Homo sapiens: one gene and its partners. The protein of the gene in region 6 interacts with the protein of the main gene of each other region in a biochemical or structural test. Each region holds a gene or a part of one and is shown on either strand. Other genes may lie near its edges.

Region 1 (3,500 bases), on a different chromosome or scaffold from region 6:
GTTTGCCCTGCAGAGACCCCCCAGGGTAGGGGTTAGCTACCTAGGGAGACTCCATCTGGCCGTTTGCTATGTGGCCGTGGTGCATCGGCCCCCAGGAGGACACAGACTGGATTCCTGCACTTGAGGGGTTCATGGTGTAGAAGGAAAGGATCCATGCTGTGTACCCCCATAGACACACCAATGACCAGAATCCAGGGCGGCTCCCCGGGAACTGAGGACGCTGCCTTGATCCTGTCTCAACAAGTCTAGCAGACCTCAGGACCTCAAGGATAAGCTGCAGCTCAAAGGACCCAGGAAGCCTCCGTCTTTTTCTTTTCTTTTTCTTTTTTTTTTGAGACGGAGTCTCCCTCTGTTGCTCAGGCTGGAATGCAGTGGCGCGATCTCGGCTCCCTGCAACCTTGGCCTCCCGGGTTCAAGAGATTCTCCTGCCTCAGCCTCCCAAGTAGCTGAGATTACAGGCTCCCGCCACCATGCCCGGCTAATTTTTGTATTTTCAGTAGAGACAGGGTTTCGCCATGTTGGTCAGGCTGGTCTCCAACTCCTGACATTGAGTGATCCGCCTGCCTCAGCCTCTCAAAGTGCTGGGATTATAGGCGTGAGCCATTGCACGCGGCCGGGAGACCTCCTTCCTAACGCACGAGCTCCGGACCATGTCGGGAGGAGACGAGGAAGCTGGGATCGGGTGAACGGAGCCCGGGCCAAGATGTCTGTCTTTGCAGGAGATAGAGGAACAAGCGTTCTGAGCAGCCTCAGAGCACAGAATGAGAACCAAGAGTAGAGGGCAGAAGGCTCAGCACAAAAGCTGCATCAGGTAGGCACGGTGGTGCACGTTTGCAGTCCCAGCTACTTGGGAGGCTGAGACACGAGAACTGCTTGAACCCGGGAGGGGGAGATTGCAGTGAACTGAGATCTTGCCACTGCACTCCAGCCTGGGCAGCAGAGGGAGGCTCTGTCTCAAAACAAAACAAACCAAAAAACAAAAAAAACAAAAAATAAGCATGACCAGCCTGGGCAACAAAGTGAGACCTATAGCCGAGCACAGTGGCTCATGCCTGTAGTTCTAGTTACTCAGGAGGCTGAGCCCAGGAGGTCGAGACTGCAGTGAGCCATGATCGTGACAATGTACTCCAGCCTGGGTGACAGAGCAAGACCTTGTTTCTACACAATAAAAAATTTCTAACAATTTAAACAAGCAAGTACATTGCACTTTATTGGGTGATTCAAGGAATCTTCAGAGGAAATTTCGACAGTAAGCTATTTTCACAAATGCCTTGACTCAGAACCAGATCCTGGAGTAACAGACAACTAAGCGCAATGCACACAGGAACCCATTGCTGTGCACAAGCAATGGAATGTAAACCATGCGCACAAATTAAAATCTTCTAGTACCCATGTTTAAAAAGAACAGGTGAACTCACTTCATTTATTTAGAGACAGGGTCCTGCTCTACCTCCCAAGCTGGGGTGCAGCGGCACGATTACAGCTCACTGCAGCCTCCAACTCCTGTCCTCAAGTGATCCTCCCACCTCAGCCTTCCTAGTAGCTAGGATCACAGGTGTGAGCCATCATGTCTGGCTCTTTTTAATTAATTAATTTTTATTATTATTATTATTTTCTGAGACAAAGTCTCATTCTGTCGCCCAGGCTGGAGTACAGTGGTGTGATCTTGGCTCACTGCAACCTCCACCTCACGGGTTCAAGCAATTCTCCTGCCTCAGCCTCCGAAGTAGCTGGAATTACAAGCACCCGCCACCACGCCCAGCTAATTTTTGTATTTTTAGTAGAGACAAGGTTTCGCCATGTTGGTCAGGCTGCTCTTGAATTCCTGGGTTCAAGCCACCTGCCCACCTTGGCCTCCCAAAGTGCTGGGATTACAGACATAAGCCACTGCACCTGGCTGAAATTAATTTTAATAACACATTTGATTTAACCCATCAAAAATGTTATCATTTTCAACGTACAACCAGTATGAAAAATGAATGAATGTTTCACACTGTTTCCGTCTTAAGCCTTTGAAATCTACAATGGCATTATTGCGCCTATGCTCTCGTGGGTTTGGGCAATTCTTGTTTTATGTGTTGCCTGTAGCCAGGGGCTACTCAACCAGGCAGTGCAGCTTTAAATGGCTCTCTGGAAGAACAGGCCACCTCCAGAGGTCCCAATTCAGGAAGGAGCTAAAGCCAAGGTGGACAGCCAGAGAGGGGACTGAAGCAGGGAATGAAGGCGTGGACTGCTCCTTCCATCTGGAAATTTCCAATCCCAAAGTTCGACCACTGTTCGCCTACAGCTGGAAGTGGCGTAAGCCACGGGGCACACAGGCCAGAACCGAGGCGATGGCGCTGGAGCTGGTGCTGCAAAGAGCTCGCTGGAAGGCAGGGGCCTGGGCACCGCTTCCTGGGCTGGACAAACACCATCTCATTCCATTCTCACCATCGTCCCCGGAGGCCCAGGCAGGAGGGAACAGACTCACAGGGGTGGGGGAACCTGCCCGAGGTAACAACACCTGCCTGAGGTCAGGACAACCCCTGCTCATCTTAGTGTCCCCCATGAGGGGAAACAGGGCCCTAGTAGGTGCTCACTGAGGAGCTGCTGAACAAGGACCCAGAAGAAGCAGAAATGGCGAGACCCTGGGAGTGGGACAGAAGGTAAGGAGGGGAACATGAATGAATGAATGAATAACATCAATGAATAAATGAATATTTATTTTTTTTGAGACAGTCTTGCTCTGTCGCCCAGGCTGGAGTGCACTGGCACGATCTCAGCTCACTGCAACCTCTGCCTCCTGGGTCCAAGCGATTCTCCTGCCTCAGCCTCCTGAGTAGCTGGGATTACAGGTGTGCATCACCGCGCTCAGCTAATTTTTTTGGCATTTTTAATAGAGACGGGGTTTTGCCATGTTGGCCAGGTTGGTCTTGAACTCTGGGCCTCAAGTAATCCACCCACCTTGGCCTCCCAAAGGGCTGGGATTACAGGCGTGAGCCACCACACCCAGCCATGAATGAACACTTCTGATGGCAGACTTGGAAGGTCTCAAGTACTGCTCAAAACATTGAAAATGCATTCTGGAGTCAGCTGACTAATCCATCTTAAATTTACTGGCAACCCAACTGTGGTTATTAAACAAAACAAAACAAAACCTTGGCGTCCCTACAGCCAGCTTCCTCTCCTGGGGGAATCCTTCAAGAGATGGGAATCAAACCCCACACGGAAGAGAAATGTGAAGGGCGAGTTCTGTGCAGAGAATGAGGAACGGGTCCCCGTGTCTGGCTGTGCCCGTGTTGACTTGCACACATTGGCATCAAGAGTCTTCATCTGGGTCACAGAAGGCCGACCCCCAAGCGGGAGAGGCCACCAGACATGCCACAGTCCCTGACACCTGGTTCTTGAGGGGTCACACCGCAGGCACGGCACCCGGACCCCAGCCAAGGGCCCCGGGGATCGCCCTGCCCTGCCTCGGCCTGCAGAACGGGAGTGCAGAGATCACCCTGGCATGACCCCAC
Region 2 (3,500 bases), on a different chromosome or scaffold from region 6:
CTCGTCATTTAGCATTAGGTATATCTCCTAATGCTATCCCTCCCCCCTCCCCCCACCCCATTATATGTTGGCCCAAGTTCTTTGGAGCTTTTCCTAAAAAATAAACACTGGGCCTTAGTTTTCCTATAAAACTACAGAAAGCTCTTTGAGAAGCTATTTATATGGTATGTGGAGCATTGAAAGATTTTGTTCCCATCTTTTATAAAAGCAAAAGGAATAGTATGCTTTGGACTAGTCCTACTATTTGTAATATATCACATTATGTTCTTTTTAGAACATTCCAGATGTATGATATGAATGACTTTTTCACTTAGTTGTCCACTATCCTATTATTTCTTCTCATTGAGTCATGTATATTTAACAATGATTCATAATTGATTAGTCAAAATTTGGTTACTGAATTATTACAATTTCTATAGCAGATTTTAGAGTATAAAATTATAGTGTAGCGTTGAACAACTCTAGTATCTATTGAGTAGGCAGAAGGTGTTTAAATGGAATTGAATTGAGCTACAATGTGTTACTAGCCTAAGATGCAGAAGATTCAAACCTGCCTTCTGCCCCCCTTTCTGCTTGTATACAATTGATAGTACCTTTTTCAATTTCCTCTCCTATGCATATTCATATGTAAGAATAAGACCATGTGGTGGCATTTGTGTTTTATTTTACTTTAGGATTTTAAAAAATTTTCTACTGTAATTAGAACATTATCAAATAGGCATGAGATATTTCTTCCTTCTCTAGCACTGCTGTTTAAATACAAATATATTTTTATGATGTCTTTGATGCCAAGATACTGGGATTTCCTTGGGTTTCATATATATTTCTAAAAGATAATTGGAAGGGCCGATATTTAACAAGATGTAAAGATCCCATGGCATAAAGAGAAAAGGGAACCCTGGAAGGAACATCATGTTTGTCACAGGATCTGGGTTCCTGTGGAATAGCAGACGAGGCAGAATTGAGAATGATTTGAAAAAAAAAAAAAGAGAACAAACATTGCAAGTTGCTGGTAGGCTTATGAAGTTAATGCTAGTGGGATACCTTTGTTCACACTGAACTGACTTCGTAAATCACAGCCCCATTTCAGGCACATGAACCCTGTCCACCACCCCTCATTCTAGCTTCAGTCATCAGCATCCACTACTCTTTGAATCTTATGTGTTTATGAGAATTACATGAAAAAATTCATATAAAGTACAAAATATTATGCCTGATACTTACCAGAGTCTCATCAGATTACAGCTATCAATATCACTATTATTACTCTCACATCATCACCATTATGATTATAACTACTAATGTCACACATCCCTGGAGCTGGCATTTCCCATTGGTTTGCCAAGTTCAGTATGGATCCATTTGATCCTTAAGTATATTTCTCTTTTAAAAAGATCTCTGAAATAACTCTATCAAATATAAAATTGACTCCAGCATATCTGTGTCTTTCTGAGAAGTAATGTTATTGACATATCTATTAACTAACTAAAACGTTCAACTTCTAAAAAGATACAGAATTAGGTCTGATGGGCTTGGCCTAACATATAAAGCTATTGGGAATAATAAATGACTCTAATCTTTGGGGAAGATATTTAACAATTTTATGAATACAAACTTTATTAAAACTATTAGCTCTCCCTATTCTAATAAATCTAAGTGACATAATATAATTTTTTTAAGAATTATATTTTTATATACCAAAGTAAGGTTCTTAAACATCATACAAGCACTATAGTGACTTAAGTTACTATGCTCCTAAGATATTTAAAAATATATATACATATAAAACAAGAGTTTATTGTGTAGTAGTATGAAAAAGGTTAGATTTCAGAGAAACATATGGAGTCATACTTTACACTAATTAAAAATTAAGTCTCCCAATCAATAAGATTTTGATACTGACCTTCCTGGGAATTCCTTTTTTCAGACATAGGAATCTGGGTCCTGTCCAGCTCACTAATACGATAGAGATCGTCAAATTCCCCCCAGCGTGTCATTCTGAGAAGTAATAAATCTTGTAAGTACATCAGTTCCATTTATATTGAAGCCTATGATGGTTTCCAGATTTACAATATTAATATAGTAATACTGTGGGCCTCTGTAGGTGGATATATTGTCCAAAGTTATAACAATTTTATGATATTATTAAAATTATATTCATACCAAAGTGGTCAATATATGTTTTAAATGCTTCCTGTACTTTTATAGAGCATATCTTTTTGACGTAATAATTCAGTTACATACTGAAACACAAGTTATATAGATTCTGTAAAACATATGTCCAAATTGAATTAGTAGAAACCAAGATGATCAATTGTTATAAAGATATTTCACAATACTCTTAGGGGAGCTTGGGTATAAAAGTGTTCTTTATACATTCTGTCAATATGTATTGTACCTTTTGCATTCAAAACATTGTTAGGTAGAGTGGCTCTAAAATAATAAAATATAGTGCCTATCGTTTAAGGCCCTTGACTACCATGAAGAATGTAGTTTACGAAGGAGGAAAATGTATGAGAATTTTGCCAGAAAATTATGATTTCATAAAGAAACTAGCAATTTTAAGTGCATTCTAGTGCTCAGAATACATGAAACCTGACAAATGTTTATTTTTACGGCAGGTCAAAACTCAATTTTATTTTATTTATCTGGTCTTAAACAAGTTTCTTATCCCCTCTGTGCCTGTGTCCTCATCTGTAAAATAAAAATGATAATAGCATGAGGTAGGATAGGGTTGTTTTGAGGATTAAAAGAGTTAATTTGTATAAAATTCTTGAATCAGTGCCCTGAAAATAGTAAGCATTCAATATAGATTAACAATAATTATAATTATCCTCATCTCCATTGTCATCATCATCATCATCATCATCATCATCATCATCACCAGCATCTGTATCTATTTCATTCCTGATGGGCCAGGAACCATTAGGGACCCAAGGTGTTCCTGGATCTCTCTAGGCAAATGGTTGCTATTATCTAAGAATCTCTTCAGTAATGTCTGTTTTTCTTATGACTAAAATATATTCACTTATAGGGAATTTATGGCATTGACTCTGCCCGAATTTCATTGGTGGCAACAAAAAATATTTATTAATACTAATGGTAGTGAATATGAAGAAAGTCATCCCTTATCCTCTTTACTTTTGAATTCTTTTGAAGCGTGTTTTATGGCTACTATATCATTTGAGTCTCACAATAGCCTTATGATGTAGAGAAGGTAATCCTAATATATTTGTTAATTTTCCAGCAAGCTGTACTATTCAGAATACAGCCAATCAAAACAAATGTCATAAAGCCCAACTACAGGTAATAACTTTAACTCAAAGGAAAACTACCAGGTCCTGACTCAGAATCTAATTAGTCTTATGGCAGATAAAATTACCCATTTCCCCAAATCTATAGCAGCTTAATAATCAGAAAGTGGCAGACATAATTATCGTAGAAGGGGGGTTAGGAATGGAAAAGTCAATACCAATGAAAAACAGAAACTAAAAATGCAA
Region 3 (3,500 bases), on a different chromosome or scaffold from region 6:
ATAAAGTATAGGATGTGATGACTGAAATTACAAGGAAATACAGAAACATTTGGGGACATCCATTGTCTTTCTGACATCTTCCCACTATGCCTGAGGAATTTCCGGATTTAGAAGCTGCAATTCCCACACAAGTGCAGTTGTAAAATATCTGTAACACGATAGGGAAAAGTCCAATTATTTCAGTAACATTTAAATAAAGTTAAAGACAGTTATGTTAAAAATGTTTACCGTAGCCATGCATTATGTAAACAATGAGGAAATATTCTTTTATTTTTTTGTATTACAGTATATTGAGCAAAGCAAAATCTATATAGATACAACATTTCATTATCTAAAGAGCAGATGACTATCTACAAACTACTAATCCTGTACAACAATCTCCCAGCAAATCCTGCCTAATCTAACCATACCTTACCTCCTTCGCTACCACTTCCAATGCTAAGTAACCATGATTTCTTGCCTAGATTGTTACAATGCTCCCTTTATGCGCAACTTGTTTCCAATCTTATCTAGCTAGTATCTGCTTTCCACCCAGTAAGTAAAGTGAACCTTTAAACATGGCAGTCAGACTGCATCACTACCCTCAACCTGCCAGTGGTTTCTCATCATACTTGCATGAAACCCCACATCCTTATAACAGTTTACACTTTCTCCATCATGTAGCACCTGGATGCCACTCTAATCTCACCATTCAGTGATCTTCCCTCTCTTCTTCTGTGTAAGCCACACACATGACCCTTGCAAAGGCCCCATTTTGCCCTTTCCAAACATCCCCTCAAACCTGGCAAGTTCATCCATGCCTCACGGCCCTGCTATTTTCTCTGCCCGGGCAGCTCTTCTCTTCGGTGATTACACAGCTGGCGTCCATACTTTAGTTCTCCGTTTAGAGGTTTTAATAGAGACCTTCTATGACTATCCATTTAAAAAAAAAAACAAAAAAAAACAACTCCCATCTCTCCATCTTCTTATTCTAATGTATGTCTTTTTTTTACAGTGCTTCTTACTACCTATCAGGATATCCTGTATTTACTTATTTTTAAAACATACTTTCCCAACAGAATGTAACCTCCATGAAAGCAGAAACTGCTGCTTTGTTATTATGCAACTGGGGAATGGAATAGACTCTCATTTTAGGCATTTGATAAAACTTAGTTAAGTAAATGGGAACAATTTGAGGATATGACATAATTTACAGTGGCTATGAGAAAAAAATAATTCTGGTGCATAAAACTCAACTAAATTTTGACTGAAGAGAGACAATTTGTATAACCCCTCAATAGTTTATTTCTGTAAATTTTATTTATGAATGCATATATATAATGTTATCATTTTTAATCACAAAAGAGTTTGTGAGTTTTTAGACCATAAATAAAGCTGGCATTTACTTTTCTAGAAAGAGTGGCAATATAGATTTTTTGTAATGTCAAGTTGAAACCTTTGAATCTTAATTCTGGTCGCTCACTAGATAAATGAGTTAAGCAAGTCCTTTGTATCTCAGTGCCTCAGTTCTCACATGAAGAAAATACTGAAAATAATGCAAATTATTTCAGGACCATGAGATTTAAATGTAATTTTGTTCTTTTAACACCAATCTTTAACCTTTCCTTGTAATGTCTTTTATAAATGGTAGCTCTCATTACAAAAAAACCTTCATGCAGCTGTGAGCAAAAATAACAGTAGCTGAAAGAAAAATAACAAAGGAAGAAAGCAAAGAAAAGAAAAAAAGAGAAGCATGAAAACATGTTTCAGATGAGTAGGTAGTCTTATTCATTGTTGCTAGAAACCAATCCTTTCTGCTGTAAATAAGTCAAAATAATAATACAATGAACAGAGTAAATTAACAAACTTAACTGTATATCTGTGGATATACAGCCTAAGTATTCATATCCAGTTGATAAGGATATATAAATAAATGAGATACATGGGTGGTCTAATTTTCTGCCCTCTAGGATTGTCAAATAAAGGCAAATTTAATCAGTCACAAATAGAAAGCAGTCTCAGAGAGCAAGGATAAGGAAGAGTCTGTTTGGGACAGGAATGGAAAGGTGTGCTGAGAAGGGTGAATCTGTTAATGATTGAAGTACTTTACATCCTTCACAATTGCTTTCTGTTAAGGATTGAATATTTTCCCAAAATTCATATGTTGAAATCCTAACCTTCAATGTGATGGTATTTGGAGTAAAGCATTTAGGAGGTAATTAGTTCATGAGGGTGTAGCCCTCATGAATGTGATTTTAGTGCCCTTATAAGAAGAGACAGGAGACCTGTCTCTCCCTGTCTGCTCTCTGCCATGTGAGGATAAAAGGTGAAGATGGTCATCTGCAAACCAGAAAGTGGGTCCTCACTAGGAACCAGTTCTGCTGGCACCTTGATCTTGGACTTCCCATCATCCAGAACTATGAGAAATAAATGTTTGTTGTTTAAGCCACCCATTCTATGGTATATTTGTTATAGCAGCCTGGACTGACTAAAATAGATTCCTACCTATATTTCCTACCTCATCTCCCTCTTCTGCCCTATGGAAACCCTCCATTCCAGCCCACCTGCCCTTTCATTATTATACAAATTGGCTTGATTTTCCAAAGTTGTCCTAGAACCATCAACCTCCTCATTATCAGATCCCTGACCCCAAGGTCTAGAATCTCTGGAGCTAAGCCTCCTAATACTGGCCTCTATTTGTTCATTCCCTAAAACCTCCAAGGACCACGGATCTTAGGGCCAGGGGACATGGATCTGAAAGCATATCTTATTATGATGATCATACGACAGACATTCTAATTCAGGGCTAACACTTCTTATAAGCAAAATGAGAGAAATAGACTACATAATTACAAAATCTCTTCCACCCTATTTGATGACTCTAATTCTCACCCTAATTTTTTCAGCAACTCCAGTACCACTAGGAATGGTTATAACATTTTCTTTTTCTACAAAAAAGGACCAGGCAGAGGTAAGAGGCAAGCCTCCTACTAGTAGTGGTCTGCTGTGAGCCCCCATAGAGTTTTGTTGTTTATATTGTAACAGGACCATCGCCATATACTTGAGAGGTGATTTCTTACAATATTTTTTCCACTCCTGTTGGAGGTTTGACAACCAGCAAGACAAGCTGATACATATGTGATTCCATTTTCACCGCACATGGGTTCCCATTTTGTCTCTGAACATTTGCATCTTGAGTTGCAATCTGAAAAGAGAGCTCGTTCATGATAAGAGACAGGTTTGGTTCTGAAAAGAAATATAACAATATAAAATATTACCTCTTAGCAGGTAGCACCCGAATATTTTCAAAAAATCAATGTTCTTGAGTGATATAAATGATACTATGAACAAAATTTGCCTTTTAGAAACACAGTTGTCATCAGAAATGGCAGCTTCTGGTCATGAAATGTGAGTTTACTAATAAACAGCTTTCTCTTGAAAGTTATCTTTAGAGGTTTACAAATTCACATGATGTCCAGTTCTTAGCTTATAGCTTTCAGTCTACAGCCTCTAGGATCTTC
Region 4 (3,500 bases), on a different chromosome or scaffold from region 6:
CTTCACCTGCACGGAATACCTGCCTGTTACTCTGCAGTCGGAGGCCTGGGCTTGGGTTGGTGCCTCAGTGGACAGGACTGTGCCGGCCAGGCATGTGTGCCCAGGGCTCCGTTGGTGCGTGAAGCTCAAAGGCTGTGTTTGTGTAAGGCTGTGTCTGGGCCCTATCCCCACCCCACTGAGCCTCCTGCCCCCAACCAGGCAGAAAGGAGGGGCCCCAGAGGGAGAGGCCTCACCTTGAGGGGGTGCAGCATCCCCTTGCAGTGACCTGCAACAGAGCATGATGTGCTGTGACCGGCTACGGCACAGGCCAGCTGGTCGCCCTCCCCAACCCCAACTGGGGGCATCTTCATCCTTTCCACAGTTTATTGAGTGCCTGCTACACACCAAGCACTATTCCAGGCACTGGGGATACAGCAGGGAAACGAGACAGAGGAAGGCCTTGCCCTCATGGAGCTTACATTCTAGTTCAGGGATACAAACAAGTCAAATAAATAAGGAGTTCTGAGAGCAGGGGTGCTCTTAAGAATTCAGAACAGGTGATGTGGCACCCCTGCAGAGGGGGTCCTGGGAGTGATCTCTCCAAGGAGGAAACAGCCAAGCTGAGATTCGAAGGGGATGGGGGTGGGGGAGCTCCGGAAAGATGGGGGAAGAGTTGGAGGCAGCGATGACAGAAGTCCAGTGGTGGCAAACACCTGATGCCTCAAAGAACCAAGAGAAGAGAGTGGGGCAGGACCATGGAGGTGAACTCAGGGAGGGGGCTGGGAGCCCAGTGCAATGACGGGGGGCCTGGGGAGAATCCACGTCCAAAGGGCTGCTGAGAAAGAAGCTTCTAGGTTGGGGAGTGGCCTGGTATGCTCTGCATTTTTAGTTGACCGTGGTATGGAGATGGGGGTTCGAGGGCACGAATGGCCACAGGGATATAAGAGCTGGGGGCCAGGGCGTGGCAGCCGGGAAGGGCTGGTGGCAGTAGGGGTGGGGAGGAGTGCTCAGGTGGTGGGTCCGGGGGCTGCCAGGACTGGCTGAAGGATGAGGTCCAGAGGAGGGAGAAGTCAGGGAGGGAACCAGGGTGGACGTGAGGCCGCTTCCCCACAGAACCACAGGGCTGAAGGCCGTCAGGTGGGCTTTGGCCAGGTTCAGGTTGACACCATTTAGTTAACTGGTGGAGGGGCTAGAAGCAGGGATTCAGAAGTCATCGGCTTACAGGTGGGGCTGAAAGCCAGGGGCTGGAGGGACGGGACACCAGGACTCACCGGGGCGTGGGTGAGCAGGGTGAGGTGGGGAGAGGGGAAGTGGGGGTTGGGAGGTCAGGCCGGGCCGATGCCCCCAGCAGCTCAGGGTCCAGGATATAAATCTCATCCTGTGCGATCTCAGTCACATAGTTGAGGTGCTCCTGTGGGGGGAGGTCAGGGCGGGAGGTCAGGGCACCTGACGGTGGGGGCCGAGGGGCAGCAAGGCTGGTAGACCTGGAGAAGCCTCTGCCATGAGCACAAACACTGAAAGGAGGTGGCCAGGCAAGGGGCCCTGCCTGTCCCTCTCCCACTCCTTCCCATTCCTGACACCTCCTCCGACTGCCCAGACTTTACCAGGTGAGCTGGCGCCTGACCAGAATGCCTTTGCTTCTGTGTCTCCCTGGATGGCTCTGGGCTTCCAGGCCCTCCTACCCACCCAGCAAGCCTTTGGTAGGTACCCCACTGCCTTTCTGGCTGGCACCGCCCTATACTCTCCAGTGTGGAGGGCAGGGCCGCACGCTGTCCATGCACACAGGCAATAGTAAAAGCTCTCAGAGGCATGAGGACAGAGGTGAGCCCATCGGGGGAGCTAACAGGGAAGGCGTCCCAGGAGAGGCGACCCTGGGGCCCGGAAGCAGCTGTGGCTGGAGCAGGCCTGCAATCGCTCACCTGGGCTCGGTCGATCCTGTAGAAGCGGCTGGCAGTGGTGGCTGTGGGAGAGAGGGCAGCTGAGGATCAGGGAGTGCCATGTCCAGGCCCAGGTCCTCTGCTGCCCCTACCTGGGATCCCCTAGGGAGGGAACACGAAACAGCTTGGCACCCTGGGAGTAGACTCACCGTCCAGGAAGCACCACTTGGGGGACAGTTTCTGGCATGTCGGGGACTTGGCTCCAGCACCATCGGGCTCCTGTTGAGAGAAGCAAAGGCCAGGCTGGGATAGAGTGGGGGCCAGGGAGGGAAGGGAACTTGGAGTAGGGGGAACCAGCACAGAGGAGGCTCCGCAGGGCGAGCTGGCTGCGGGAGGAAGAGGCCTGGCCTCACTTCCCACCACCCTCTCGGTGGGCACCTGGGGAAGCCCCCACCCCTTACCTGCTGGAGTCTCTCAATGTGGGCACGGCAGAGCTCTAGGTCACTGTCTCCTGGGACCACCACAGTGCCCAGCGGCACAGCTGGAGAACAGAGCACCTGTCAGCAGCTGGCTGCACCCCACAGCCCTGCCCAAGGGGGCCCCGGCTGCTTCAGCCCCTCCTGGCCACCCTGCCAGGCCGCCCCACCGCACTCACAGGCCTCCTTGAGCTGCTCCTTGTCGTAGTGCAGGGCCTCATAGTCGTGCATGCTGACGCGACTCACCTGGATGCGCAACTGCTCTGGCACCGGCTGCTGGCTGTCGGGCAGGGCCGGCAAGCGGGGGCTCAGCAAGGGCCCTGCCTTGGTGCCACCCTCGGCCTGGCACCAAACCACTTGCCGAGAGAAGGTCCCGCTCCACTCCCAACACCCCTGGGGCAGAGGGACAGTCAGCCCCTTTTACAGATGGGGAAATCAAGGCCCAGAGAGGGCAGGGTCTGGCCTTGGCACCCAGGGCACGTGGCAGGGTGGGACGTACTCGCTGTGCAGGGGGGCGGCGCTCCGCCGCTTGGCCTTCTGCACCATGGTGGCCTGGTTGCGCAGGGCGATGCGGATGCGTGAGGCTGCAAGCTTGCAGGGCTCGCCATCCACCTGCACCGGGATGGCCTTGGATGTGGTGAGCACCACCTCGCGACACTGCGTCAGCCGCTCGCCGTGTCCGCCCACCTGCAGCGCGGCCTGTGGGCACAGGAAGCTTGGGTCAGATGGCACCAGGGCTGGGGGCAGGGGGGTCCCAGACTCTGCTCCTTCCGAAGCAGAAACTCTAGCCAGAGAACAAAGGTGAGAGTGACCCCTGGCCAGAGGGCAGAGGGGAGGCTGAGACCCCAGGTAGGAAAGGGAAGGGACAGAGGCAATGAGGGTGACGCTCCAGTCAGAGTGGGGAGTGAAGGTATCCCGAGGCATAGTGAGGAGAGGGGGTAGGTGCCGCTCTCAAGCCAGAGGAATGAGACAAAGAAGGGAGGTGAGGGTGAACTAGGCCGCCGTGGCCCATGGAGGTGAGTATGGGTGACCCCTTCCACCTTTGGGCTGTGCTCCCAGGCACCATGGGCCCAGGGCCCACTCACCAACGACGTCATGGTGAAGCCAATGACCTCGAGGTAGCCGTCGTCATGCCGCTGGGGCTCAAAGTCGTGGTGCTCCCCAGGGT
Region 5 (4,187 bases), on a different chromosome or scaffold from region 6:
GCTGCTGTCACGGCCACCAGGACCCAATTGCCCCAAGTTTGCTGCCCCTCCGGTTAGGATGTTGCACAGGCCTCCAGCTTCATGTGGTCCCACCCTCAGGCATTTCTGTCCCTCCTACCCTGGCCTCTAGGTCCGGCTGACCCCACTCGGCCCAGTGGGGCGCGGCCTCTCTAGCACCTGTCCATCCAACCTCAGTGAAGGCAAACTCAAGCTACAATGATGCCCTTGTACTCCGGTAATTCTGCCCGTCAAACTTCGGACTCAGTCACATAATCGGGGGGAGGACTTGCTTTTGCAAATCATGCAGCACACATCAGCCAGCTCCGTTTGCAAGGTGGCCAGGGATTTGGCTCTGCGGCCTTCACTGGGGCAGTTTTGGCCCCCAGGGCACATTTGCCAACGTCTGGGGACACTGCTGGTAGTCAGGAGTCCTGGCTACTGGTTGGCAAGGCTGCTGGAGAGACCTGTTATCTGGATCAAGGTCCCTAGGGCTGCGGTAGGGAAATCCTAGGCAGCTAAGCAGAGAGCCACCCTGCGCGGTGGGGGCGGGGAAGTGCACCTGGCCCTCCCACCTGGACATAGCTGGTTCAGCCCAAAGTGCATTCCAGTCACTCCCCAGCTCCGGCTCTGAATGAGACATCCCATAAACCCAGCTGCTGTCCCTGGCTCTGCTGCCACTCACGGGGTTCCCCCAAAGGGTGGGAATCAGAGCCTGCCTCTGACAGGTGCCCGTGTGGGTGACAGGTCTCCTGCCACCCGTTCACCCGCTGTAGGACAGACACACAGACAGTGCCCTCTGAATGCCCTGTCATCCACTGTCTTCTGCCCCTCCCCAAACTTCTGGAAGGTGGGTATTTTCCCGGGCAGGTAAGGAAACCAGGTGCAGAGGGAATGTGGCCTGCGGGGGTGGGACTGCTGGCCAGGCCCTGTCCTGACCTGGATGGCTGTCCCCAAATGGGGACCGGGGGGAGTGGGGGTTCTGGCCTCAGCCAGGGAGTCACTAGAAATAAGGACGCTGCTCCAGACGGATGGTCCCCTGTGCTAAGGACAGGAGCAGCCCAGATCCATCTGGAAACCAAAACTAAAACTCAGACCCAAACTCGCGGGGAGCGCCTGCGCCTGGATCACAACGTGAACACAGATGGCCATCCTCAGGATGGGGACCTGCGCGTCACATGTGAGCTGTGGGGACCCTGGCACGCCGCTTCTCACTGCTTCACCTCTGTGCCTCAGTTTCCTCATGTGTAGGTGGAAAGTGCTTCCCACATAGGGTGGTCCTGTGGGTCAGAGATGGCCCCCGAAGAGCCAGCGACCTCAGGGAGGCCCCCCAACAAGGGTTTCTCCCCAGTGTCCAGGTGGAGGGAGGGCCCATCCCACCCTCCAGGTGACTTTGGTCCAGGTGACTTACTTCTTCCAGGAAGCCCCCAAGACACCTCCCTTCCAGCAAGACTGGGGTGGGTGAGGAGTGCCTACCTTCAGCCCATGGCTCCTGCTCTGGACAGTACCTTTCATCTCACCCTGTTCCCCTCTGCTGGCTGTGGGCATCGCACAGCAGGGTCCACGTCTGCCTGGCACACTTGTGGGTCAACATCTTCTAACTCAACACTCCTACTAGTCCCATTTTACGGATGAGGAAACCGAGGCCCCAAGAGCTGCTTAGTTCACAAAGAGCCAGGATGTGAGCCTGAAACCCACACACCTGGGAACTATGCCACGGAGGGGTCAGGACCTGCAGCCAGGCACAGCACCTGGACCCTCTTGCTGGACCCCCAGCCAGGCCCACACGCACCCCCTAGGCCCCCATGTTAGGTGGTGCACAGACTGTTCCCCTCAAGGACACAGAGAAGATTCAGGCCTTGATTCAGGTCAGAAGCAGAGGTCACCAAGACCTGCCATCGCTGCCACTCCCTCAGTCCCCCCACCTGCTCAAATCTCAAAAGGGATACTGTTCCCATTTCACAGACGCAGAAAGAGGCTGAGCGGCCAAGACAAGCGGCCACGGCTCCCTGGTAGGTGGGACGCACCCCTCCCCCTCCCCATCTCCCTTCTCAGGGGAGACAAAGCAGGTCCCTCCCTGCCACCGCCCACCAAGGTCAAGGGTGGGGGAGGGGCGTATGGTTTGGGTTTGTCTTGGGTGTGGGGTTCTTCCTTCTCGGGGCTTTTCTGAAATTTTGGGGCCAAAGCAGGTTTGGGTGTCAGATTCCCCAAAGAGCTCCCGGGAGGGTCGTTCTGTTCCGCCCCCCACCCCATGCTCTTTCAAACTCCCTGGGGCTTCCAGAGTCCTCGGCGCTCAAGTCTGAACCCAGGTTCCGGTTGCATGGAAGTTTTCCTTTAGGAAGAGGAAGCGGCCACTCGGGGTCAAGAGAGGGCAGCGAGCGAGCGGGCGGGGGCAAGCAGGGGGCTGCCTGGTGTGTGTGGGGGGGCGGGTCCAAAGTCGCATCCGGCTCAGCCCGCGAGCCCCGCCTCTCCCGCCCCGGCGGAGCCCCAGGAGGGTCGCGAAGTTGTTGCGGCTGCCGGGGCGGGGCTTGCGGGAAAAGCGAGGGGGAGGAGAAGCGCCCCGGGTTCCCGGCGCCTCCCCCGGGCTAATCCCCCCACCCGGCTCCCCCGAGCCCCGACTCACCTGTCCCCCGGCTCACCTGTCCCCCAGGCTCACCTGCGCCGCGGGGCGGAGGGACGGAGGGGCGGCGCGCTGGCGGTGCAGCTTCCAGCGCCGGGTCCTGTCCTGTCCTGCAGCCGCTTCGCTCCTGCGGCAGCGCGGTCCGGCCCGGGGCGCCTCCTCCGCTTCCTGCGCGGTCTGGCTGGAGGGCGGCGGCTGCGGCCCCGCAGGTGGGCGCTGGGCGGGCGGGGCTGCTCCGGGTCCGAGGGCCCGGGCGGGGAGGGCCGGGGAGGGGGCGGGGCGCGTCCCGGGCACCTGTGGCGGCGCCGCCTGCGTCACAGGTCACAGCCCCACCTGGGCCGGCTGGAGCCCACGTGATCGCCCGGACTGGATCGCGCCTCTCGATTCCCGCCGAGCCGCCGCCGCCCGGTGCCTGCGCCTTCCCTCCCCGCGCCCACGCCCCCTCGAGGCCGGCCCGGGAGTCGCCTGCCAGGCGTGGGGCCAGAGCGGCTCGGCTCCCTCCTGCGTCACTGTCCTTCCAGGCCCCGCTCCACTGCCTCCTCCAGGAAGCCTTCGGGGAAGGAGACCAGCCCTGCGGGGACCGATGTTTGCTGTAGAAAGGCCCGGCCCTCTGGATTCTTGGAAGCCAGGCGGCCAAAGACAGCCAAGAGGGCGCAAAGCACTCTGGCCACCTTTTTGGTGTGGTTGAGTCGCGGTCATCCCCATTTCACAGAGAAGGACCGAGTCCTGGAAAGGAAGGCGCTCGCCCTCGTGCACAAGGCTGAGCCTGGACTCCGAGCCTGGCCTTTCCTTGCTCCGCCTGCTGGGAACCCGTGTGAAAGTGAGGGAGGGCCCCGGGCAGAGGCTGCAGCAGCCCCCCAGCTGGGGGTTCAGGAATCAGGCCACCTGGTGCTGTGGGAGGGGCTGGGGGCTGAGCCAAGCCTCCCAAGCTTGGGCCTGGCCATTCAGGAATGTGACCTGAGGTCCCAGGGCTCAGACCCACTTCTGACCTGCCTCCATCATCCCCTTTTCAGGAAAGGCCTGTTGCCAAAGGCCTCCATGTGAACATCCACACTGGGCTTTGGGTCAGCTTCTACCAGCGTCCCCTCACTGACCCCAGGCCTTGGGGTCGTGGGCCGGGCACCGGTGTGCCAGCCAGAGGCACTGACCACCCTCCTCCCAGGACCTGCCTCCCTGGCCTGGGCGGCCGTGAGATCCCGTTGCGGGTTGAGGAGACACCACAGGCTCTGGGGCTGTCACTTGGCATTTTCTCAGGTGTCATAGGTAGAGGGGCGGCCTGCCCTGCCCCTCCTGCTCTGGTCGCCCCACCCACTAGTCCCCCAATGTCTGCCCTGTGGCTGGGGCTGCCTGGGTGTCAGGTGCCATCTGGGCAGGGCACAGGCTGGCCTCAGGGATGGGTCCCGTGGGCCATCCATCCCCTGGGAGGGAGGGTGGATGAGGGAGGAGCTAAGAGTTGACCCCTGTGGGCTGCAGCCTCCACCTGGAGCCGCCTGTGGGGAGGTTCCACTTCCAGGCAGCTCTTGGGAAAGGCAGGTGGCTGCTGCCCTCCTGAGTCCATGATGGGTACTGC
Region 6 (3,500 bases):
AGTGGGGAGAGTGGGCACAGTTTGTAACGGAAGGTCAGGAAGCACTCTGGAGAAGGTGACCTCTTCCTCCCTGGGATGAGCACTGGGGACAAAGGATGGAGGTAGGAGGCAGGGGAGCCTCCAGTGAGGTCAGCAGGCCCCATAAACCAGCCATTGCTATTGTTAATGTTGAAGGAGGCTTCCGGCGGAACTACAGGGCACAGCTCTCACACACACTCACTACGGCGTTAGAGAAGCAGGTGGCTCCACAGCCCTGCTAGGACCACCTGCTGCTGCCATTCCGTTTCACAGACAGACAAACTGAGGTGCAGACAGAGCCAAGGCTCTACAGGCAATGGCAGAACCAGGATTGGAACCCAGCCTTCCTGCCTCCTTGCCACAGGACCCCAAACTGACCAGAAGCTAGGCCAGCCCCTCCCCACACCCCGACTCAGCGGGCAGCAGCTCACCTCTGCATGCCTGTGCCACACATGACCATCTGGCAGGCCCCCAGGCGGTAGCAGAGCTCCGAGGAGATGGGGATGAGGCCGGCGCCCACACTCCCAGCAGCACCAGGCTTTGGGTGGACAAAGGACTTCATGAGGCGGCAGAGCTCATCCAGGGCATTGATGGGGCGGATCAGCTGTAGGGGGTACCACACATAACCGGGGAGTTGGAGGAGGTCCTCACAGCCCCTCAGCCCCCATCTGGCCCTCCTCCCCCACCATATCCTTCTAATCCAGCTGTTCCTGCAGCTGCCTCCCAGCTCACCCCTCTGGGGATAACAATGCAATTCAATCTTCTATAACCTCTGCTCAAGAACCCTCTGTGGCTCCCCACTGCCCTACAAGCTGGCAGTCAGTGTTGACCATATATTTCAGGTCTAACCTTCCAACCTAATTCTCTTCACCTGCCCAGGTGTGTCCCCAGTGAAGCCTGAAGAAAGTGCCCTCTCCCAGCCTGTCAAGACCAACACAAGCGCCCCCTCTCCAGAAAAAGCCTTCCCTTCTGCCCCCAGCATTCCCTGACCCCCACGTGGAGGTGCAAGGGGTGGTTCACTAACGAGCTGTGCTGCGGGGACATTCTGCCAGCCAGAGTGGAAAGTCCCAAACGGCTGTGCCCACCCTCCTCCCGGAGCCCCCAGCTCACAGCCCCAAGACAGCACCCCAAAATCATCAGCACATTCAAGGCCTGCCTGACCCTAGAAAACCAGGAGGCCAAAAGACATGTGTTGAGGGTCAGAGGCAAGGAGCCCAAGGAGCCGAACTATCGAGGCCCCTCAGAGGGAGCTGCTCCCAGCTCGGAGCAACGGGGACATGTGGCAACATGGTCCCCAACAGCCAGATCTTCCCATTCCTCCAGAAAAGCTGGAAGCCTCTGTTTTTATGGGAAATCTTTTGATTTCTAAAGGTTGACAGCAAATTTGAAACACATAAACAAAAAGAATACCATACAGGTTACATCTGTCATGAGGTCCAGGCTCCAGCCTCAGAGAAATGCTGTGGTTAATAAGGCGGATTGGAGTGGCAGAGATGGGCGGCTGCCAGCGAAAATAAATCATCCCAGGAAGTTGGGAATGGGGAGGAAGCTATCATGGGAGACTTCCTGGAGGAGGAGAGACTGCAGGGTCTCAAGGGCTTTGGGGCTAGAATCTGCTGGGGCACAACCCTGGGCCTGTCTGCTGAGTCCTGACTCCTGAGCGCCCCACCCTGCCCAAGCTCCCTGCAGCAGGAGGGCACGTGGACATACCTGGTCTATCTTTACCGCCGTGGTGCTGGCATCCGTGGGCAGGTTAGACCGCTCCAGGTAAAATGCCCTGCGAGAGAAAGATGGGAATGAGGCGGGGGCCACCACACCCACCATCCTCCTGCCCCTACCCAGGTCTCAACTCCTGCAGCCACCGTGACTCCGCCCTCTGCCGACTCTCAGAATGAAATCCCTGAGAGCGCCTGCAGGCTGTGCTCACCCGCAGGCACCTGTTCCTACAACAGCCGGGGGGGAAAGAGGGGCCTCCTGAGCACTCCTCCAATGCCACCCCTCCCTGCCTGCCCGTCCACAGCAGCCCCCAGCCCTCTGCTCCCCAGGCCCTGGTCCTGCTTTTTCTCTCTTCTGAGCACTTCTCACCACTTGGCATCTCATGGCTCTGGGCTTACTGGTTTACTGTTCGTCTCCCCCTCCAGAACAGGGGTCAGCGAACTTCTTCTGTGAAGAGCCCAACGGTAAACATTTTATGCTTTGTGCACTGGAAAGTCTCGATCGCGGCCACTCAGCTCTGCCATTGCAGCACAAAAGCAGCCACAGAGGATGTGAAAATGAGTGAATGCAGGTGTGCTAATAAAACTTTATTTACAAAACAGGGAGACAAGGAGGGCCAGATTTTGACAACCCCTGCTCTAGAATATATGCTCCATGAAGAACAGGACTTTGTTTTGCTCACTGCACATTCCCAAACAAGCACCCGGAACAGTGCCCGGCCCGCAGAAGGCCTCAACATGTGTGAATGAAGGGATGAATGAATCATCACACAGGCAGGACTCAGAGTATTCCACAGATGGCGCAGAACAGACTGATGACAGCCCTGATCAATCCAAACAGATGCCAGTTTTCAGTAACTGGGCTGGATGCTTTCTCTGAGCAAACGAATGAAGCCTCATTCTCTCATTTCCAAATGATGAAGCCCAGACCCGTACTCATCTCCCTGGGGTCTTAATTCTCGGCCTGCCTCTGTCACAGAGGGAGGTGGTGAGACACACGCAGGAAGGGCTGTGGGGGAGGGTGGTAGGAGTGGGAGCTGCAGAACTTAGAAGCTGCCTCCCAGAACCTGTGGTTCCTCCTGGTGATACCTGGCTCCTGCTCTCACCCCTCCTCCCCTGGGGTTCTCTTCTGAGCAGCCAAGACCCTGGGAGCCGCACCCCTCACTCACAGGCCCAAGAGTCCCAAGGTCCCCTGTCCTAGCTCCCACCCTCTGTAGAATGAAGCCGGCTCCTCTCAGTAGGAAAGACCCACTTTGAAACCAAACAGACCCCAGTTCAAAGCTCAGCCACTGCCTGGCTGTGTGACCTTGGGCAAGTGTGTACACTTTCTGGGCCTCAGTCGCCTCCTCTGTAAAGTGGGATCCATGGCCTGCTGCCATTGAGAATCTCACGCAGGCAAGAGTGCTGTCACACAGAAGGTGCTCAAGAAAGGGTGTGCGGCCCACTGCCCATGCTGGGGGTCCGCCTGGCACCTTCCATGCTAATGCCCACTCCACGTGGAGGTTTCCTGACTCCTGCCCCCAACGGGGACCCCAGGCGGATACCTGAGTTTGCGGTAATACTGCTGAACTTTCTCCAGGGACTGCGCGTTGATGTCCTGCTGCAAATCCTCCGCGGCCTGGCTGCCTGGAGAAGGCAGCCCCTCCACGTTCTCCAGCACTGGGAGGGGAGATGTCGGGGGCGGGCAGGCGGTTGGGAGCCGGTGTGCTTGGTGGCCTTGGCCCGGCCCCCGTGGTCCTCCCTGCCCCAGGCCTGAAGCTCACCTTT
Region 7 (2,459 bases), on a different chromosome or scaffold from region 6:
AATGCTCAGCCGAACTGATTTTGCATTTGAACAGAATATGGCTTCCCACCTCAAACCCCTCTGGAGAGGAGAGGAGTGTATGATGTATGCATTGGGGGGAATAGATTGTATTGTCAGATTTCAAGGTGCCTTATGCATTTATTTAACAGTCTGGACTACACTCTATCCCACTTTGCCTCCCCAGTAACTAATGCATTCCACTGAGATTTGTATCCTGCAGAGAATTAGCTCCTGGAGCAATTACAGTGGCATGTATTTCCCCACAGGATCATCCAGAGTCGCAGCTAGGTTTTAGAGTTCTTCTTGGCAACCCCTTTAGTATCATGATCATCCCTGATGGAGATTCTTGGTTTGCGCTGTTGCTGTCCTCCCTCACCTGCCATCGTGACCTGCATGTGGCTTGTTTAGAGCTTGGATGGCCACCCAAGCCCACCTGCCCCCCATTTCCACCACCATTCAACTCCCTTTATGCTGAGGTAAATGATGAGGCACGGCATTGATTATGTTTATCCATTTATTAAAATATTTAAAGAAGCAATACTTTATTAACATTGAGGACTGGTGTTCCATTTGGCGGGGGGAGAGGAATAGGCACACTTTGTGGATCTTTTTTTTCTGCTTTTTCCTGTTACCATGTAAATACCCCAGCTTCCTCCCCCAACCAGCCCCTGGCCCTGCTGCTTATTTGCAGGGGCCTCTGAGGAAATAAAAAACACAGAGCAGAAAACAACAATGGGTTACAGATTCACTGACAAATAGACAAATGCAATTCCACAAATCATATAGCCAAGCAAGGTCTCATATAGGATGGAATGGTGCTAATGGGTTTGGTTGCTTTGGTATTATTTTCCACCTCTCGTGAAAGAAAAATTCTTCCATTTGTGTCCTGAGGGAAGATGACGTTGACCCTGACTGTTTCTTCTGGCCCAGTTTTATTAAGGTAAAAAATCTCTTTCTTATTCTTAACCTGCTCTTATGGACACAGCACAGGGCCTTTCTGGAGAAGGGGACCCATAACTGTTTACCTCCTATAGTATTGACACCAGAAGCAGTTGGTGGCAGTTCAAATGTATCGGCTTTTTCTTCTCCACTATTCTTCTGGCCAGGAATTGCCTACCCAACCAATTCGTCAGAAAGTGCTACCAAAGATACAACCAAACCCTAGAGCTTTGGGTCTTAATGATGTCTGAACATAATTGAGATGGATATTTGGTGTTTGGTCCCACCACCCAAGCAATTGTATTAATTACTGCAAGTGGTTAACAAAGTCCTTAAAGGAGCTCACACTCCCAGAGCTAAGACAACTCCCTTGAGGCATCACTTCTTGCTTTGTTTCCAAGTGAGCATATGCAAGAACAGGTGCTTGGCAAGCTATCTTCCTTTTTGGGAAACTACTGGTAACTTAGCAATTTAGGAGGTAACTGAGGGATTGAGCAAGCCACACCTGCTCCTGGGCCTTGTCATCTATCAACTGTGCTCCATGAGCTGACTCTAGCCCCAAATACTAGTGGTTTCAGTCAATATCATTCTGACTCAGAGTGGGAGGACAGGGTAGGTGAAAGGGAATCCACATGGCACAACAGAGCAACAGCAGCATCACTGTGCACAAAGACCTAATTATTGCAGCAAAGTAAGCACAAGAGATGGAGTCTTATTACAGTTTACTATCATCAGTGATAAAAATAATTATAAGACACAGCCCTGCTTAGTCACTGCCAAGATAAAGCTATCTTCTCCCAGGACTTCCTTCTGTAGTCCTAAATTTGCTCATTTGGACATTTTCCCCTTCGGAAAAAGCTCTTCTGAAGAAAATGCAACTTGGTTCCCACTCTGTGAGTGTGTGTGCAGGTGTCAATGCATGCAGCCATAGAGGAGCCAAGTCAGGCTGCAATAGTGAGCTTGCTGATTTCATCTAATACCTCCTCCTGGGAAGAAAGACTAATAACAGAGAAAGTCAAAGACACAACAACAGCACACTCACTACTCAAATATGTACAACAAGCTAACACATTCTGATGCTTAAATAAGTTTTAAATGTTTTCTGTCATCTTTTTCCATTGACTTTCTTCTCTAGTTGTAGAGCTAGGACTTAGTTTGGCACAGCAATCAGACATTTGGGGACTATCCCCTTGTTAATATTTTTCTCCTCACCCCTGCGGAGGTGGAGCACAGGTGGCTGGTTTAAGTGGGTTAGGCTGGTGGAGTTCCAGAGTTGAGAACCAGTGCTTGGAATCTGAATTGTGCACCTCAATGAACCAGCCATTGGACTGAATCAGGTAATTGAGCACGCTAAGTTTGTCTGAGAAGTAGGGAGAGGCCAGTTTTCTCTTGATAAGTGGGAAGGGACAGTTAACTAAAGGTATGAGTCAAGGGTGGGGTGAAGATGCAAGGCTGACCAGAGAGAACCTCTCTGGGCATTGGGGTTTGATTAGATTTGCCCTGACTGGGAGAAGGCATTT

The links.
Region 1: the proteins of PREX1 (region 6) and MAP2K2 interact in a test that uses a peptide from one of them, tested with the Homo sapiens proteins (one large-scale study listed by IntAct).
Region 2: the proteins of PREX1 (region 6) and RASSF6 interact in a test that uses a peptide from one of them, tested with the Homo sapiens proteins (one large-scale study listed by IntAct).
Region 3: the proteins of PREX1 (region 6) and SLCO1C1 interact in a test that uses a peptide from one of them, tested with the Homo sapiens proteins (one large-scale study listed by IntAct).
Region 4: the proteins of PREX1 (region 6) and DGKZ interact in a test that uses a peptide from one of them, tested with the Homo sapiens proteins (one large-scale study listed by IntAct).
Region 5: the proteins of PREX1 (region 6) and ARHGEF16 interact in a test that uses a peptide from one of them, tested with the Homo sapiens proteins (one large-scale study listed by IntAct).
Region 7: the proteins of PREX1 (region 6) and DGKK interact in a test that uses a peptide from one of them, tested with the Homo sapiens proteins (one large-scale study listed by IntAct).

What each region holds. Positions count from the first base shown.
Region 1 is NC_000019.10:4,117,623-4,121,122, forward strand, and holds part of MAP2K2 (dual specificity mitogen-activated protein kinase kinase 2), read right to left. Parts: intron 8-3,500; coding exon 1-7. UniProt on the Homo sapiens protein: Catalyzes the concomitant phosphorylation of a threonine and a tyrosine residue in a Thr-Glu-Tyr sequence located in MAP kinases. Activates the ERK1 and ERK2 MAP kinases.
Region 2 is NC_000004.12:73,585,937-73,589,436, forward strand, and holds part of RASSF6 (ras association domain-containing protein 6), read right to left. Parts: intron 1,999-3,500; coding exon 1,904-1,998; intron 1-1,903.
Region 3 is NC_000012.12:20,736,832-20,740,331, reverse strand, and holds part of SLCO1C1 (solute carrier organic anion transporter family member 1C1), read right to left. Parts: intron 3,226-3,500; coding exon 3,060-3,225; intron 149-3,059; coding exon 1-148. UniProt on the Homo sapiens protein: Mediates the Na(+)-independent high affinity transport of organic anions such as the thyroid hormones L-thyroxine (T4), L-thyroxine sulfate (T4S), and 3,3',5'-triiodo-L-thyronine (reverse T3, rT3) at the plasma membrane.
Region 4 is NC_000011.10:46,374,963-46,378,462, reverse strand, and holds part of DGKZ (diacylglycerol kinase zeta), read right to left. Parts: coding exon 3,418-3,500; intron 3,032-3,417; coding exon 2,832-3,031; intron 2,613-2,831; coding exon 2,512-2,612; intron 2,398-2,511; coding exon 2,318-2,397; intron 2,136-2,317; coding exon 2,066-2,135; intron 2,062-2,065; exon of another isoform or gene 1,979-2,061; intron 1,940-1,978; coding exon 1,899-1,939; intron 1,391-1,898; coding exon 1,251-1,390; intron 266-1,250; coding exon 234-265; intron 7-233; coding exon 1-6. UniProt on the Homo sapiens protein: Diacylglycerol kinase that converts diacylglycerol/DAG into phosphatidic acid/phosphatidate/PA and regulates the respective levels of these two bioactive lipids.
Region 5 is NC_000001.11:3,453,278-3,457,464, reverse strand, and holds the start of ARHGEF16 (rho guanine nucleotide exchange factor 16), read right to left. Parts: upstream 2,801-4,187; 5' UTR 2,654-2,800; exon of another isoform or gene 2,637-2,653; intron 30-2,636; exon of another isoform or gene 1-29. UniProt on the Homo sapiens protein: Guanyl-nucleotide exchange factor of the RHOG GTPase stimulating the exchange of RHOG-associated GDP for GTP. May play a role in chemotactic cell migration by mediating the activation of RAC1 by EPHA2.
Region 6 is NC_000020.11:48,629,000-48,632,499, forward strand, and holds part of PREX1 (phosphatidylinositol 3,4,5-trisphosphate-dependent Rac exchanger 1 protein), read right to left. Parts: coding exon 3,497-3,500; intron 3,393-3,496; coding exon 3,278-3,392; intron 1,796-3,277; coding exon 1,729-1,795; intron 623-1,728; coding exon 450-622; intron 1-449.
Region 7 is NC_000023.11:50,364,909-50,367,367, forward strand, and holds the end of DGKK (diacylglycerol kinase kappa), read right to left. Parts: 3' UTR 501-2,459; downstream 1-500. UniProt on the Homo sapiens protein: Diacylglycerol kinase that converts diacylglycerol/DAG into phosphatidic acid/phosphatidate/PA and regulates the respective levels of these two bioactive lipids.